2 separate regions of the Homo sapiens genome follow, and region 1 is linked to region 2. Evidence: fine-mapped expression QTL. A gene starts in region 2. The other region holds a variant in brackets. All regions are shown on one strand. Distances are from middle to middle. Region 1 overlaps MAML1 (mastermind like transcriptional coactivator 1). Region 2 holds the start of LTC4S (leukotriene C4 synthase).

The links.
Region 1: its variant is fine-mapped to the expression of LTC4S in whole blood (INTERVAL, PIP above 0.99). The same link has a PIP of 0.9 or more in cerebellar hemisphere, cerebral cortex, skeletal muscle and tibial nerve.

Annotation. Positions count from the first base shown.
Region 1 is chr5:179,770,619-179,778,936 of GRCh38, reverse strand. MAML1 (mastermind like transcriptional coactivator 1) reads right to left here. Exons shown (of 5, transcript NM_014757.5): 4 at 7,694-7,790; 5 at 1,654-5,042. The coding sequence ends at 4,060. Among named protein-coding and RNA genes, the nearest start is that of LTC4S, 19 kb to the left of the region's middle. RefSeq lists a silencer at 5,582-5,782. The variant G/C (reference allele first, on the strand shown) is at 5,029.
Region 2 is chr5:179,789,597-179,797,914 of GRCh38, reverse strand. It overlaps LTC4S (leukotriene C4 synthase), which reads right to left and starts at 3,929. Exons shown (of 5, transcript NM_145867.2): 1 at 3,777-3,929; 2 at 2,232-2,331; 3 at 2,059-2,129; 4 at 1,893-1,974; 5 at 1,268-1,662. The coding sequence starts at 3,834. The coding sequence ends at 1,521. It overlaps MGAT4B (alpha-1,3-mannosyl-glycoprotein 4-beta-N-acetylglucosaminyltransferase B), which reads left to right. Exons shown (of 15, transcript NM_014275.5): 15 at 1-305. RefSeq lists silencers at 1,289-1,500, 1,345-1,504, 1,525-1,574, 1,615-2,324, 3,870-3,939 and enhancers at 2,134-2,806, 4,290-4,439, 4,460-4,539, 4,114-4,741.

The sequences.
Region 1 (8,318 bases), 19 kb after region 2:
GCGGTACAGGGACCTTACCTTCCTGTACTGCCGCAATTTCTATCATATTCCCTGCCTCTAGGGCAATGCCTGGCCACAGCAGGTGCTCCCTAAACATTTGCCAAGTGAACTGTCCCTTACCGAGTCCTCCTCCATCACCCCCAAGCCTGGCTGGTGACCTGGAGAGACTCGGGGTAGTGGCAGGCTGCAGGGATCTGGAACTGCCTGGGCCTTGCCACTACTGAGGCCTGGCCATCCGATGTCTCCTTTGATTCTGAAAGTTACTGGGAACCTTAAAAATGGGCTGTAGGGAAATAATTTATAGGATTATATTAGCCAGATTTCTTTTCTATTGGCTTGCAAGTTAAGAGCCCCAACAAAACCATTATTCCAAATGACTGTCCAAAACCTTCATAAATATTTCAAATGGCTGCATCCTATCTCATGGAGTGGAAGCACCAGTTTGCTTAACCAATCCCCTAGGGCAGCAGTTTAGCATCTCATTTTCTGCGACTGTAAACAGCCATACTAAGAACACCACTGTGCTGTACCTTTTTCTATACCCAGAATCATTTTCAAGGATCGCTTCTCAGAATTGCAACTGTCCAGGCAGACACAGCACGAACATTTTAAGGAGCTTGATAACTTCTACAAAATTTCTTCCCACGAACAATCATACGGCAGCCAGCCTCCCATCCTGCAGCCAGCGCTGGGTGCCGCTCAGCACTGTGCATCTCACAGGTAGGGCCACTCACTTCTGTTCTCGTTTGTGTTTTTAGATCACTGCAGATAACGTGCATTCTTAGCCAAGAATTCACAGGGAGTCTCCGGAGTTTTCCTCCTTTACTGCGCCTTCTATGGCAAGGCCACGAACACTGTTTCCTGTGTGTCACAGATGTCTTCCCCTTTTTATTAGCATAATCTAGCTTTTTGAGTCTATCATGGCATGGTTCCTCCCTGTGGTCCCCTGAAGGCCATTCTTCTCTGCCCTTTGAGGAACTCCAGCCTCTCCCAGGCTGCCCTGCTCCCTGCTCCCAGCAAAGCAAAGCAGGGAGAGTTCTGAGGTGAGCGGCCCCATTCACCCTTTCAGTCCAGGCTCCATCATCTGGTCCCCTTTCACAGTGTGACATGCCAGAGCACATCATTCTTACAATTAAAAAAAGGGAAAACCAAGCTCTATGCTGAAAAGCAACTAAATAGTACATGGAGCAGACAGACTTCAGGGGCAAACCTAAGGGTTCTACATGAAGCACGAGAAGCACAGTCGTCCGGCCCAGCTCCCTCCATCAGCCGCATGGATGCCCGTGAGTCCCGGAGACAGGCTGCTTTCTCAGGGTGATGCTAGAGCTAAGAGAGCACAGTCGTCCGGTCCAGCTCCCCTCCATCAGCTGCATGGACGCCCGTGAGTCCTGGGGCCAGCCTGCTTTCTCAGGGTGATGCTAGCTCTAATTTAGTATCTATCAGCAGATAACAGAAGCTCCTCTGAGGCTTCAACCAAACCAGCTCCCACCCAACAATGTGCAATAAGAAAGCAGCTAAATCTATGACTCGACAAGCATTTCTTTAAAAAGAAAAAATTAAAAAACCAAGAAAAGCAAGCAGCTAAATTACAAAAGAAAACCAATCCCCAAACTTCTGCCAGCAGACCCCAGGTGACGTCAAATACAAAGGTTGTTTCCATACTAGCAAAATACTTTATTTTTATAATGATAAAACAAGGAAAGTAAAGATTTCTTTTTGGTGTATACCAGAGTTAAGGGCAGTAGAAGAATATGGGGATTAATAGGACTTTTATGAACTTTTGATGACAATAAAAAGTTAACAATACCAACCGTTTGCCATAAAACTTATCATAGCTCCCCCAAAACACACATATAAAGGATCATAGTTTTAAAATCTATAAAAGTAAAAAATATACAGTTGGAAGCTCTAGCGCTTATTCCATCTTTCATATAAAATTGTAAACATTTATTTACACAAAGCAAATGTGTATAACAAAAGTCTGAGCACCCTTTTCTTCTGAGTTGTGGCTCCTGGAAGACGGGGCTGTGCACAGAAGCAAAGTCATCTCCTCCCCTGACTCCCGAAAACCAGGTTCATAAATAAAGCCATGGGCAGCTCCCTGGGGGGACCCCAAGAATCACATTTTATTGCTATGACACTGCAGCAAGTGAGGAGCCCCCACTGTGTCGCCGGCCCCAGGACTAAGGCGGAGTGCAGGGCCAGCGAGCCCCGGGGACAGGGGTGGGAGACGGGGCAGCAGCCAGATGGGGTCAGGAGAGGAACAAGGATCCACAACCAGCCTTCAGCCGATTTTTGGGAGAAAAGCCGCTGAGGTCACCCTCTTCCCCTTCAGATTGGGGAACTCCCTCAGAGGGTGAAATTTTCACTGGCTTTATGATTCACCCCTTCTTTGAGAGCTAAACTGAGTACATGGGAAAGGTAGGGAAGGTGTTTTAAGGAGAAATGGCCGACATACCACTTGGGGTGGCAAATGGCTATTAGAAAAGAAGATCTGAGGGTCCAAGTACCCCCAGTGAGAAAGGCACTGCTGGTGCAAAATAACTACCAATGTGTGTACAACCTCTCGTCCCCTCACCGCGACTCAGGCTGGTTGCATGAGTATTTTCCTTGGCTCAATTCTCACATAGGACACTCCTGAATGATCCATTGGGAGACTCCAGGGAAACAGAAGTGGGGCTGCAGTTTCTCCACAGAACACTCTGCATCTGAGCCACTTTTCAGCATTCTCTTTTCTCTCCACCATTCTGTGTAAAAGGGTCTCACCCTGTGCTTACCACTTTGCTTTCGTTACGGGGAAGTGCTCTCTCCATCTTCGTTTTCCAAAAACAGCTCACATGTCATATTCTATTTCGTGGACCCTCAGCTTAGTCAAGTCCACTTGAATCTTTAGAAAGGATGTCTTAGTGTTATAAAGCAATCTCTTTAAGAAGTGCAAGTCATCTGACATGGGAGTGGCAGAAGTTGTCAAACCAAGTGGAATTGCTTCCTCCGGGCCGGCCTACGGCCTCCTTCCCCAAAACCTTTATGCTAAGGTTCCCTTAGGAATTCTAAGACTCTTCCTTTCCCTCCAATGGAGTAAATAATTGTTTTCCATTTGGGCTGCAGAGAGGAAGGAGAGGCAGACAGAAAGGCCAACGGTAAAGGAAAGACATCTGTGCACAACTGCACAGTGACCACGCTCCCACCATGGGCAACATACATGTTCAGAGAAAACTGCAGAAGGTGGGGAGACATAATACTCCAGGATACAGGACCCCCACATCTCTACCTTCCATATGTAGCCTGGGGTCCTGCTGCCAGGACATGGGAGGAAGGGATTCCTGGGGGCCTTGGGAGGGAGGAGGAGGAGCTGCTAGGAAGACCCTAGCTGTGTCACCAGACCTGCTATCCCATGCCTCCTGTCCCTTTTTGGCATACGCAGTCAACAGCCTGCACTTAGGGAAATAATTTTCCAGTGGCCTCCTTCTCCCCTGAAAGCTGACAAAGAGCAGAAACAAAAAAGGCTCTTAATCAAAAGGAAACCCTAGGTTTCCAATGCCACTTAATTGATTTAAACCATCACCTACCCTAATCTGTTTAAAAACCTTTTGTAAAAAAATTTAAAAATCTTTTCTATGCTACAAATTGCAAATAATTCTGCTATCTAAAGTTTCAACAGAAACTTGTCCCCAGCACTGGGGTAAGTGGAGCAGTCTTGGATAAAATCACCATGATGGCACAGATTTTTATAAGCCCGACAGTGTGGGGTTTCACTGGTGTTACTGTTGGTTTTTTGGTCGTTTGGATAGAAAACCACCTTTAGAACCCTATCCTGCTGTCCCAACACCAGGTACTGATGCCAGCAGATGGGCTGGGGCCAGCCCGATGGACCTCAACTGCTGGCCTGAGGGGCGCAGCCACAGACCCTGCCCAGGGCCAGGCCTCACCTGGAGCTTGGGCTCTACCTGCCCAGCTCCCCAGGCCATGGGCTTTTGGTCCAAAGTAGTTGCTCTTTCTTTGAATCTGAGAATAAAAATATAGGATGAATGAACACTAAAAACACTACAAATCCTTCCATTACTGAGACCCTAACAGGTCGTCCAAATCACTCATCCACTCCTCTGAAGTCCTGTTCTTCAGCAGGGAGTCGATCAGATCGGTGTGTCCAGCCACACTAGAGAGCCCACTGCCACCTGGCTGCCCGCTATAGGCAAAAGGCAGCTCCTGGCCCGCGGTCCGCACAGGGTAGGCCTGGGTGCAGTGCAGCCCCGCCCGACCGCCCATCTGTGAGGCAGGGCTCTGGCTGAAGGCCCCCAGCTCAGGCCCTGCTGGGCTCAGGCCAGGCAAGCCCTGCTGAGGGGCTGTTGGGGGTGGTGCTGGGGCAGGGGCGCTGGTCCTCTGCTGTGCACTCACTGGGGGTAGCAAGGACCCCACGGCAGCTGCTGAGCTCATGGGAGCCATGGGCCTGTTGGGCACTGCCTGGGAGAATTGCGGGCTAGACATTTTCAGGTGGGCCTGCTGCTGCATGTGGAAACTGGAGGCTGCAGTGAAGGGACTCACGTTGCTGTTCCCTGGGGTCTGGCCACTGAGGTTCGGCATTCCCTGATGCTGCCAGGAGGAATTCTGGCCTCCCATGGCTGGTGACACCCTTGGGACCGGTGGCTTTGTTAAACCAGGGTTCAGGGTCCCCTTATTGTGCTGCTGGGAGAGGCCAGAGCTTCCCAGAGAGTTCTGCCCATAGGCAGCTGAGACGGAGGTGTTCTGGCCCACGTTGGTCTGCCGTGGAATGTGGGCATGTCCATTGGTGGCCTGTGGCGGGGGCTGGGCAACTATCTGGGTTATGCCAGAAGCCATGCCATAGAGGCTGCTCTGAGGCATGTTTTGGGAGCCAGGGAACTGAGCCACACCCCGGTCCTGTTGGCCTGAGTTTGTGGGGAGAGAGGAAACTGAAGCATGTCCAGGGCCCATTGGCATCAGATTCCCAGCCTGAGGGAACACTCGAGGACAGCTGGAGTTGGATGGACCCAAGGTGTTCATGCCGGGCAC[G/C]GCAGCAGAGGACCCTACAAGACAGAGAAGAGTCTGGCAGTCAGGAGTCGACCACCACTGGGTCCCTCTGAGACTCGAGCCGCAGCACCAGAAGTCTCACGTTCACGGCACACTGGGAAGAGGGCCCCGGGGGCCATGGGGCAGAAAGCCTTCCACAGGTGGAATGGAGGCCTGGTCTCTGAAACAATGATGGGGTTCAGAAAGGCACAGAGGAAGGGCAAAGCCCCAGGGGAGAGAAAACCAGTGACCTACTTCATCTAACTTTCAAGCACCCACCAAATTTCTGCTCTGTGGGGACCCTGTGGTGGGCACCGGGGACTCTGAGGTGGACCCAACGCAAGATCCGCCTCTGGGAGGCAAAGTTAGCACATGGCACGATGGGGCGCAATGGGGCGCGATGGGGCGCGCCTGGCCAGCAGGCTGCAGGGTGCAGGCTGGAAGCCCTGGCATCTGGGAAGCCTTGGGCAAGGCTTGAGAGAGACAGTGATGAATCCACTAGGTTTAAAAGCACAGAAGTTTAGCAATTTAACAGTTTGGGGAAAAAGAGCATTCCAGGCAAGTGTGTGCAAAGGCAGAGTCAGAAAAAGGCATCTGTGTGGGGAACTTTCAGAGACTGGCCGTGGCCGGGATATGCAGACAGTGGCCAGCTGGTTAGAGATAAAATGGAAGAGCTAGTTCCGGCCAGATAGGGAAGAGCTGTGGATGGCGTGTGAAGAACGGGGTTGTGGCCGGGCGCGGTGGTTCACGCCTGTAATCCCAGCACTTTGGGAGACCGAGGCGGGCGAATCACGAGGTCAGGAGATCAAGACCATCCTGGCCAACATAGTGAAACCCTGTCTCTACTAAAAATACAAAAATTAGCCAGGCGTGGCGGCGCGCGCCCCCAGCTACTCGGGAGGCTGAGGCAGGAGAATTGCTTGAATCCGGGAGGCGGAGGCTGCAGTGAGCCGAGATCATGCCACTGCACTCCAGCCTAGGCGAAAGAGCAAGACTCTGTCTCAAACAAACAAACAAAGAACAGGGTTGTAAAGCCCAAGAGTGGCTGGACTGAGAGTGTGGCTGAGACCATGCTGGGGAGAGGCTGTTCAGTCACGGAGATGAGGGAGGGCAGACCATGTGGGAATGGGGGGTGGAGGTGCAGAACTGTGTGACAACATCTCACCAGACAATATACCATCTTATGGCACACCATTTATACTATGAAATGACAAGGTGGCCAAAGGAGGGAGGAGTCGCAGGAAATTACCAGATCTTCACTGAGTACCCACTCTGTGGCAGGTGCTGTGCTGGAGAGACAGCAGAGGGTGGAAGAGAAAGCACCCCTATGCTCAGGGAACTGCTGTCTAGGCCTCCTGGCTTAAGCAATGGACATATGACAACACCATTAACTGAATTAGGTTTTGTGGGTAGGAGAGTCATTGTTCAGGGATTGGCCGTAACTCAGTGCTTTGTTCTTCTTCCTCTCTACTAGCAACCATATAATAAAAATTGGGGCCGGGCACGGTAGCTCACACCTGTAATCCTAGCACTTTGGGAGGCCAAGGCGGGCAGATCACGAGGTCAGGTATGTGAGATCAGCCTGGCTAACATGGTGAAAGCCCATCTCTACTAAAAATACAAAAATGAGCCGGGCGTGGTGGCAGGCGCCTGTAATCCCAGCTGCTTGGGAGGCTGAGGCAGGAGAATCGCTTGAACCTAGGAGGTGGAGGTTGTAGTGAGCCAAGATCGTGCCACTGCACTGCAGCCTGGGCGACAGACCAAGACTCTGTTTCAAAACAACAACAATGAAATTGGGTTGAGGAAAAGAGGAGAGCTGAAACCGGCTATTTCATTCCCATCAATAATCCACAAAATGTCAGATGGGTCTGAAGGCAGAAAACATGGGTCAGACCCATGCTTCTGAAATGCCTGCAGATTTCAACCCCACGTTGACCCCAGGTAGCACATACATAAAACCGTACCTGGTCTCCTCCAGGACACACAGCTGTGGTCAGTCTCTCTGGGACCCTTTATAGCAAGGTCCCAAATAAGGAAAAACAGAGGTTTCTAAGACATTCTGAGAGGAGCTAGGAAGGCGGGCAGACCAGAGCTTCCTGTATCCATTCCCTGAAATCTTTGTGCATTTCTGGAGGGATGGCCTATGAAGTTCCCTGGCACATCTCAGAGGCGACAGCTAGACTCAAGTGTGCTTCCTGCCCTTTTCTGGCCAACTGTCCACTAGTGATGCTGCCATCTGTGATATTCAAGTGAGCAGACAGGAGGAGAGAAAGAAGCCAAAGGCCACGCAAGTGCATTAAGTCCTTATCTGGAAGATAGGAGTCATTTTTTGAAGACACATAAAAGCAGAAGCAAAGAACTTTCTTGAGAATTACAGAAGCTATTTCCTGCTGATAAGATGTCCTCCAACTAGAAATGATTTTGCTTCAGAAAACTGTACAGCCAGGGACCCAGCAAAGGTAGTTCTAGTGGTTTGCCTCTGTGCCCTCTTCTCCTGATGCCGTGGAGTAACTAGAAAACCAGGCCCCTTAGGCAAACTGAGGTGTATATGATGACAATGCATGCAGCCTGATGAAGTCAAGGCATAGAGCTGGGCAGACAGCAGGGATTCAACCAGCACCAGGCAGCGGCCTCCCCTGTCCCTGCTCGTCACACAGACACCCCCTACCTGTGAACTGTCCAACCTGCTGTGGGAAGCTGCCTTGTGTCGGGTCTTGGTACTGGGGTGGTGGGCGGGTCAGATGGCGCTGAAACTGTTGCTTCTCCTAGAAAATGCCAAGAACAACAAAACAAAACCAACATATAACAAAATCCAAAACAAAGGGAGTGAGGGAGGTCAGAGAAAAGTAACTTATCCAAGTTTGTTACTCACAAATGGGCTCCTGTGGAAATAGTGCTGATTTCATTTTGGGGTTTTTAAATAGTATGAAACAGATCTAGGGAGCAATGACTTTTTTAAAAGGTAGGTATACCTGTTTTTAAAAAATGGAGAGCTGGTTAGGAAAATGCAAATCACAGCTACAATGAGATCCCACTAGGATGGCCAGAATCAAAGTCAGATGATAACAAGTGGTTGGTGAGGATGTAGAGAAATCAGCACCCTCATACACCGCTGGTGGGAATGTAAAATGAGACAGCCTGTGGGAAACAGTCTGACAGTTCCTCCAAAGGTTAAACATAAAAATTACCATGTGATCCAGCAATTCCACTCCCAGGTATCTACCCAAGAAAAATGAAAACAGATGTCTATATGAAAACTTGTACATGAATGTTCATAGCAGCAATACTCATTA
Region 2 (8,318 bases):
GGCCTGGGGTCCGCCGCTGGCCCGGAGGCCCTAGGAGCTGGTGCTGCCCCCGCCCGCCGGGCCGCGGAGGAGGCAGGCGGCCCCCACACTGTGCCTGAGGCCCGGAACCGTTCGCACCCGGCCTGCCCCAGTCAGGCCGTTTTAGAAGAGCTTTTACTTGGGCGCCCGCCGTCTCTGGCGCGAACACTGGAATGCATATACTACTTTATGTGCTGTGTTTTTTATTCTTGGATACATTTGATTTTTTCACGTAAGTCCACATATACTTCTATAAGAGCGTGACTTGTAATAAAGGGTTAATGAAGTGTGTGCCTCAAATGTGAGCGCCCTGGGCATCTCCCTCTGCCCCTGCGGTTGGCTTCATTTGGTCTGTGCCCCAACATGCCAACTAAGCCTGGCACTGGGCCTCCCCAGCCAGCATCAGCAGCGACCTTTCCCTGCTAAGTCAAGGAGCCAGCCTGGCCTGCAGGCGCGGGGTCCAGCCCCTGGCTGTGCAGCTGCAGTGCCACCTCGGCGCCAGCGTACCCCCCTTCCTAGGATCAGGCCGCAAAGTCTGTCACTGGTGAAACCAGCTCAGAATCTGGGACCACAATGCCTATAGCAGGTCCCCCGAATGTCTCCCCCATGTCCAAGGCCTGCGATGAGGCCTTCCCTTAGCTCCTCAAGCTGAAGGCATTTCCCAGCCTCCTTGTTCCCCTCCGTGTGTCTCAGCTTGGTCCTCATCCTGGGTCCCCGACACTCCTCTGGCACATTAGGGTCTCCCGCTCACCTCAGGGCCTTTGCACACACTGTTGCCCCTCCTTGGAAAGCTCTCCTTTCTCCGTTTCTCCTGCATACTTGGCTAAAAGTCACTTCTTTGTTTCTGTGGGCCTCCCCTGGATCCCCAAGGCTTCTGGACATTTCCTTGAGACCGCCTGTCACTGACTCACTTCGTTCCCATGGTGCCCGCAGCTCTGCGGACCTCGGAGGGCTGCCCTGAACACCTACAGTTAACGAGGGGGATCCAGTGCTGACCAAAAGAAAAACCCCTGCCCTCACCTGGGGAGAGAGCCACAGGCTCTATCTAGTGTCAGCTGTGAAGGCCAGGGGACGAGGGACTGCGGCGGCTGAGAGTCGAGGGAAGGCCCCTGAGGAGGGGGACCGGTGAGGAGACCGCTGAGCGCTAGGAGGGTGAACCCCGGCAGGACTGGGCGGCCTTGTGACCCCGAGGCTGAGTAGGGAGTGGGGTAGGAGGTGAAGACCGGATCCAGTCCCGCCCCAGGGGGAGGGCTCGTTCCTTCGCAGCCACTCTCACGCCGCCACTAGGAAGCCCGCCCCGGGCTGCCCGGACTCGGGCTGGGCCCCTCCAGGCTCCGTAGCCCGCGGTGCGCCACCCCCGCGGACCCAGAGAACGCAGCCCGGGTCTCGGTCACTAGAACTTTAATGATAGAGACTAGGATGCGGAAGCGAGCGCCCCTCCCCGGGGCAGCTGGAGGCTCCGGCTCTTCTTTCCCGGCTCCGTCGGCCCGGGGGCCTTGGTCTCAGGCCCACGGCAGCAGCGTCCGGAGCCGTCCGAGGAGCGCGGCGCGCAGCGCGGCCGGGAGGAAGTGGGCGAGCAGGCCGAGCGCAGCCAGCGCCACCAGCAGCCAGAGGGCGCGCGCGCTCGCGTACAGCGGTGCCAGCCTGCGGGCGGCGGTCAGCGGGGAGGTGGCGCGAGGAGGCCCGCTTCTTCCCCGCCGCAACCCTGGCCCCACGGGGACTTCCTCTGGCCGCCGCCAGGGCTCGCCCACCGAATCCCCAAAGGCGCTGGGCTCCGGCCCGTCGCCCGCCCCCAGCTTCGGTCCCGCTCCCCAGGAGCCCCGCCCGCCCGCGATCTTTCCCCGGCCCCGCCCCGCTCCCCGCCCGGCCCTCACCTGAGCTGCGCGGAGCGCGCGTAGCCCTGGAAGTAGCGGAGGCGCGCGAACAGGTAGACCAGGCCGCACAGGGCCGCCGCCCCTGCGAGAGGTACGCACGGGCCTGGTGAGCGCCCTGCGCGGGTCCCGGGGGTCCAGCGCGTGCGCCCCTGCCCCACACCCCGACCTTCATGAAAGAAGATGCCGGCGACCCAGAGCGTGGCGAGGAACAGCGGGAAGTACTCGCTGCAGTTCACCCTGCGGTGGGCGGGTGGGATGAGCGCGCCGGCCGGGATGGTCCTGCGACCCGGACCCGCCTGGGGCTCGCTCCCCGCCCCGCGCCCTCCCGCCGCGCCTCACTGGGCTCGGTAGACGCGCTCGAACTCGGGTGGGCCGGTGGTGAGCGGCGGCGACACGCGGAAGGCCCTGCGCGCCGAGATCACCTGCAGGGAGAAGTAGGCTGGGGGAGGAGGGGGAGCGGGAGTCAGGTCTGGACACCCGAAGCCCCAGAGATGGGAGTGGGAGGGATCCTGCAATCTGGCCCTTCACTTGGCCGTGTCCTCTCCTCCCTAAGGCGGAACCCCGCCCCCTCCCCGCCCGAGGAGACCTCTCGTCTCACCCATCCCTGGCCTGCCCTGTGTCCCTGACATTCAGCGAGGAGGGCAGGGCTGAAGCCTGGGGCGCAGAGAGGCCCTGTCCCAACCTGTGAGTGTATGGGGGAGGGTGAGTGATTCAGGCACAGGGACACCTGCTCCGCGAGAGAGACCACTTGAGTCCTTGTTTCTGAATCATTTCACTCTCAAAACACAGGCAAATGCAGCTTTCAGGTCCCTGGCCAGGAAGTGCCTCGGGAGTCTGAGGGCAGAGCTGGCTGCATCCTCCCAGGTGCAAGGAAGCACACTCCCTGTAGCTAACAGTCCCTGGTCACCCACCTACCAGCGCCCACCAGCAGGGCCCTCTGACCCTGCCTCAGGCCGGGATCACTAAAGCCTGCGTCCCTGTGCCTCCAAACCTCAGTTTCTCTGTTCCTGCATTCCGGTCCCAGGCCTAAATCTGACAGACACCTTCTCTCCTGCTCCCAGGAGGTTGCAGCTGGGACTCTCCTAGCCTAACCCCAGGACCCCAGGGCTGGGGTAGTTGCAGAGGGTGGGCTGGCCCTAAAGTTTCTCTGTGGGCAGGAGCCCTTCTCTTGGTCAGGTGAGGCCAGGCCAGACCACACACAGACCAGTGCTGGCTGTGCGCTCCCTCCCCAGACCTCCCGTCGGACCATCTCCCCCTGAGTCCTGCAGCCCTGGCACCTTTGGTTCTGGGCCCTCTGCAGATGGGTGTCACAGGGTGGCCATCCAGCTCAGTGCAGGAGCAGCTGGAGGTCAGGCTGGCCTGTCTGTTCAGCCCCTTCAGAGCCCCCTCCCCAGGCTGTGCCTTATCCTAGCCCACACACTGTGGAGTAGTGGTGTCTCTTAGGTGGCAAGGATATCTGGCCAAGGAATGTGTCCTTTAGGGCCAGTCTGAGAAAGGCATTAAGCAGGCTCTTTTTAGGGGGCTGGAGGAAGGAGTCCCACCTCTACCCTGCTCCACGTGGTCCCAGTATGGAGGTGCCTTTGAAGCAGAGCCAGGGAATGGGGGCCGCTTGCTGGGACGCCCAGAGAGGGGACAGCTGGAAAGAGCAGAGATCAGCTTCCCCAAGCCCATGGCTATCCTACCATTTGTCCTGGCACCCTTGCCACCCCCAAGTCCTACAGCTCTCACAGCCAGGTGCCCCCCAGTTCCCTGAAAGTCCCCACCCTCTTCCAGCTTGGGCCTGGGCTGGAGTCCCCACCTCTGCCCTCCACCTGGGCCTAGGGGGCAGAGGGCAAGCTGTAGGGATCTAAGGCCCACCCTCTTCCTAGATAGGAACCAGCCCACCTTGCAGCAGGACTCCCAGGAGGGTGACAGCAGCCAGTAGAGCTACCTCGTCCTTCATGGTACCGTCGGTGTGGTGGCACGGGCTGTGTGTGAAGGCGAGCTGGGGAACGCTTAGCCCCGTCTGCTGCTCAGAGGACGGCCCAGGAGAGGAAGAGCAGCCTCGGTGCTCTCCCCGCCCCATCTCAGTGGAGGGGGTGCACGGGGGTGTGACCATACCACACAGAGCCAGGGAGCCAGGCCAAGCCAGCAGGGAGGAAACCAAAGTCTGGGCAGGGGAGAGCAGCTAGCTGGAGACCGCCTCACCACTTCCTGCTTGTTCGTGCCCCTTCCTTGCCTAGTCCCGCGTGGCAGAGCCCAAGCTGTCCATCTGGGTCAGCTCCAGCTGTGGGTGTGCCCCCTGCTGCACCACCCCACTTTCTCCAGGGCCTTGCAGACCCCCACATCATGCTGGAGCCAGCCCCAGGCTCCCGGCTAACTCCTCCACCCACCTTATCTGTTCCCTGTCCCCATCCAGGCTGTTCCTGGCAACCCCTGCCAAACCCTCCTCTGCGGAAGCCCTTCCCAGTGCCTTTGGCTTCAGAATGGAGTCCCAGCGCCCCCCCAGCCACACTGGGCCCCACAAGCTCTTTCTCCTTCAGGAAACCTCATGCCTGCCAGCCTTAGTCGTTGTAGGGGTTCCATGCACAAGGGCCACCCTGCCAGGAGGAAACCTGTCCAAGGCCCCCTGGGTGGCGGGAGGGTCAGCCCTTGTGGGCCATCCCTCTCCCAGGCCTCTCTTGGGCCTCCCACAACAGTCACCTGCTGTGTCTTTCTGCCCCGCAGCCCTCTTGCCTCAAGGTAACAACCCTCCACCACCTTCCTAGACGGCTGCCCTCCCCACACTCAGGCCCTGTGGTCTGGACAGTGCTGACTCCTGCCCCTTCCAGGCCTGTGAGATGGACACTGAGCCAAGGCTGACTCAAGATGGTGAGATGTAGTTCTGGAAACTTCCTTAGGACTTTGGGACAGGAAACTCAGAGTGGGGAGGGGGACTACGGCGGGCCACCCTGAGGACAGAGCCCACGCAGGGCCAGGTGGAGAGGAAAGGTGGCACCCGAGGACTCCTGCCTGGAGTTCTGGGTGTCTCCCTCGCCCCGCCTGGAGCGCCCCCGGCCGCCCCCCTCGCCCTGCCTGGAGTGCCCCTGGCCGCCAGCCTTCCCAGTTGGGCCTAACGGTCACTTCCTCTTTTGGCTTGAGTGGGTTTGCGGTGGCTTTTGGTCAGAAGTGGCAAAGTCCAGACTGACCCAGAAGCACGGGCAGGAGCTGGGGGAGGCCACAGGCCGTGCTGCAGGGGTCGGGCCGCATGGTTCTGCCCTCGCACCTGGTCCTTCCTTGCTGCCCCAAGCTCAGCTCCAGCCTGAGGCTCGGAGCCTGTTGGGCTCTCTCAGAATCCCTTCTTCCTCCTCTGGGTATCGCCCCTGCCCCCGGAAACCAGATATGCCCCAGCTGGGGGCTCTGTGAGCTCCTCCAGGGCAGGGGCCAGGGCTCAGGCCCGGCCCCTGCTTTAGACCAAGCTGTGACAGTCATCTTGGGGCTCAGTGATGGAGGACTGCCTCCTAGATCCCGGACACAGATGTAGTGCCAGGGAGCGATGGTGGCCGCGTCCTCAGACTCTGCCCACTCAGCCTCCTTCCTCCCTGAAACCTGCCCCACAGGGCCTGCCTGAAGGGTGGGATGCAGCCCACCACGCAGGGGTTGACGCTGGTGCCAGTGGGCTGTGCCCAGGGTGTCTGTGTGCACCACGCATACATACCTGCATGCCCCTTGGTCAGTTGTCACACACCCATGTCTCTGTGCTTGTGGGTGTCCAAGTGTCTTCGTGAGTCCAGGCCCTCCTGTCAGCCAAGCTCTCATTTCCTCCAAGGCCTGAATGTCCTCCCGTCGGAGTTCATCCCCTCAGTCCACAGCAGGAAGCCAAAGCCTAACATCAGCAGCTTCTGAGGAAGTCCCTTGGCAGATGTGCAGGGCAGGGACCTGGGTCTTGGCCCCGGGAGCCCTCCCCGGGTCTCTTGGTTCCCACCTCCCTCCCTCTGAGCCTGCCCAGGCTGTCAGGGCCCTGCCTGGGCTCAAGCCAGCTCAAGCTGACAGGAGGGCCAGCCAAGCCCCCACCCCTGCTCGGGCCACCCAGCTTCCATCTTCCTGTCTAGCTCTGGAGGCACCAGCATCAGGAGGGAAGCGAAAGCTCCTCCCTGAGCCTCCACAGAGCCCTAAGGAGTCTCTGATGCCCACTCACCAGGACCTCTGGGCGGCAGAAAGGCCGGCAGAACCATTGCACAGAGAAGAAATCAGAACTTCTGTGGAGTGGATCATAGGCAGTGCACAACTCAGACCCTGAGCTTGAACAAGAAAGTTTATTTAGAAATTATTTTATATTTGAGACAGGATCGTGCTCTGTTGCCCAGGCTGGAGTGCAGTGGCTCAACATGCCTCACTGCATCCTCAAACTCCCGGGCTCAAGCAATCCTCCCACCTCAAGCCTCTCAAGTAGCTGGGACCACAGGCTCTAATTTTTTTTTTTTTTTTCCAGAGATGGAGTCTTGCTATGTTGCAGGCTGGTCTCAAACTCCTGGGCTGAAGTGATCCTCTGCCTCAGCCTCCCAAAGTGCTGGGATTACAGGCATGAGCCACCATGCTTGGCTGAAATTATTTTAGACTTACAAAAAAGTTGCAAAAATCTACAGTCTCGGCCAGGCGCGGTGGCTCATGCCTGTAATCCCAACACTTTAGGAGGCTAAGGTGGGCGGATTACCTGAAGTTAGGAGTTTGAGGTCAGCCTGGCCAACATGGTGAAACCCCATCTCTACTAAAAATACAAAAATTAGTCAGGCGTGGTAGCAGGCACCTATAATCCCAGCCACTTGGGAGGCTGAGAGAGGAGAATTGCTTGAACCCAGGAGGCAGAGGATGCAGTGAGCCAAGATCACACCTGAGCGACGGAGCGAGACTGTGTCTCAAAAAAAAAAAAAAAAAAAAAAAAAAAAAAAAAAAAAAAAAAAAAACTTGTATAACCAAAATTCAGTTATAAACCAAGAGATTTCCATTGATACAAGTTAGTAATCAAGTATTTTACGGATCTTATTCAAGTTTCACCAACTGTCCTACTGGAATAGTACAAAGACCTCAAAAACTTTATGCTAAATTGTGCCAGGCTGGGCATGGTGGCTAACGCCTGTAATCCCAGCACTTTGGGAGGCCGAGGTTGTGGACCACCTGAGGTCGGGAGTTCAAGACCAGCCTGACCAACATGGAGAAACCCTGTCTCTACTAAAAATACAAAATTAGCCGGGCATGGTGGTGCATGCCTGTAATCCCAGCTACTCCGGAGGCTGAGGCAGGAGAATTGCTTGAACCCAGGAGACAGAGGTTGCAGTGAGCCAAGATCGCGCCATTGCACTCCAGCCTGGGCAACAAGAGCGAAACTCCGTCTCCAACAAAAAAAAAAAAGAAAAGAAAAGAAAAAAAAAAAAAGGCACAGAGAGGGCCAGGCGCGGTGGCTCACGCCTGTACTCCCAGCACGAGGTGGGCAGGTCACGAGGTCAGGAGATCGAGACCATCCTGGCTAACACGGTGAAACGCCGTCTATACTAAAAAATACAAAAAATTAGCCGGGGGTGGCGGTGGACGCCTGTAGTCCCAGCTACTCTGGAGGCTGAGGCAGGAGAATGACGTGAACCAGGGAGGCGGAGCTTGCAGTCAGCCGAGATCGCGCCACTGCACTCCAGCCTGGGCAACAGAGCTAGACTCCGTCTCAAAAATAAAAAAATAGAAAAATTAAACCATAGACTTAGAGAAAACATTTGTGAATCATATATATGATTAAAAAAATACTTTGAATTCAAAATATATAAAAACTCTCAAAACTGGATAGTAAGAAGACAGTTTCCTGAGTAAATGGGTGCAGATCCCTGTAGGGCAGAGATCACCTGCTGTACAGCTGAGAACTGATTCAGTCTGGAAGTGGCCTGGGATCGTGAGAACCTGAGTCTTTACTGGGGCAGCTGGCCTGGCTTCTCTCTGCTTCTCTGTTCTTCTTCTTTTCTTTCTTTCTTTCTTTCTTTTTTTTTTTTTTTGAGACAGAGTCTAGCTCTGTCGCCCAGGCTGGAGTGCAGTGGCGCCATCTCGGCTCACTGCAAGCTCCGCCTCCCAGGTTCACGCCATTCTCCTGCCTCAGCCTCCCGAGTAGCTGGGACTACAGGCGCCCGCCACCACGCCTGGCTAATTTTTTGGTATTTTTAGTAGAGACGGGGTTTCACTGTGTTAGCCAGGGTGGTCTCGATCTTCTGACCTTGTGATCCACCCGCCTTGGCCTCCCAAAGTGCTGGGATTACAGGCGTGAGCCACTGCACCCAGCTTTTCTTTTCTTTTTGAGATAGGGTCTTACTCTGTTGCCCAGGCTGGAGTGCAATGGCGTGATCTCAGCTCACTGCAACCTCCGCCTCCTGGGTTCAAGCAATTCTCCTGCCTCAGCCTCCTGTGTAGCTGGAATTACAGGCGTGCACCACC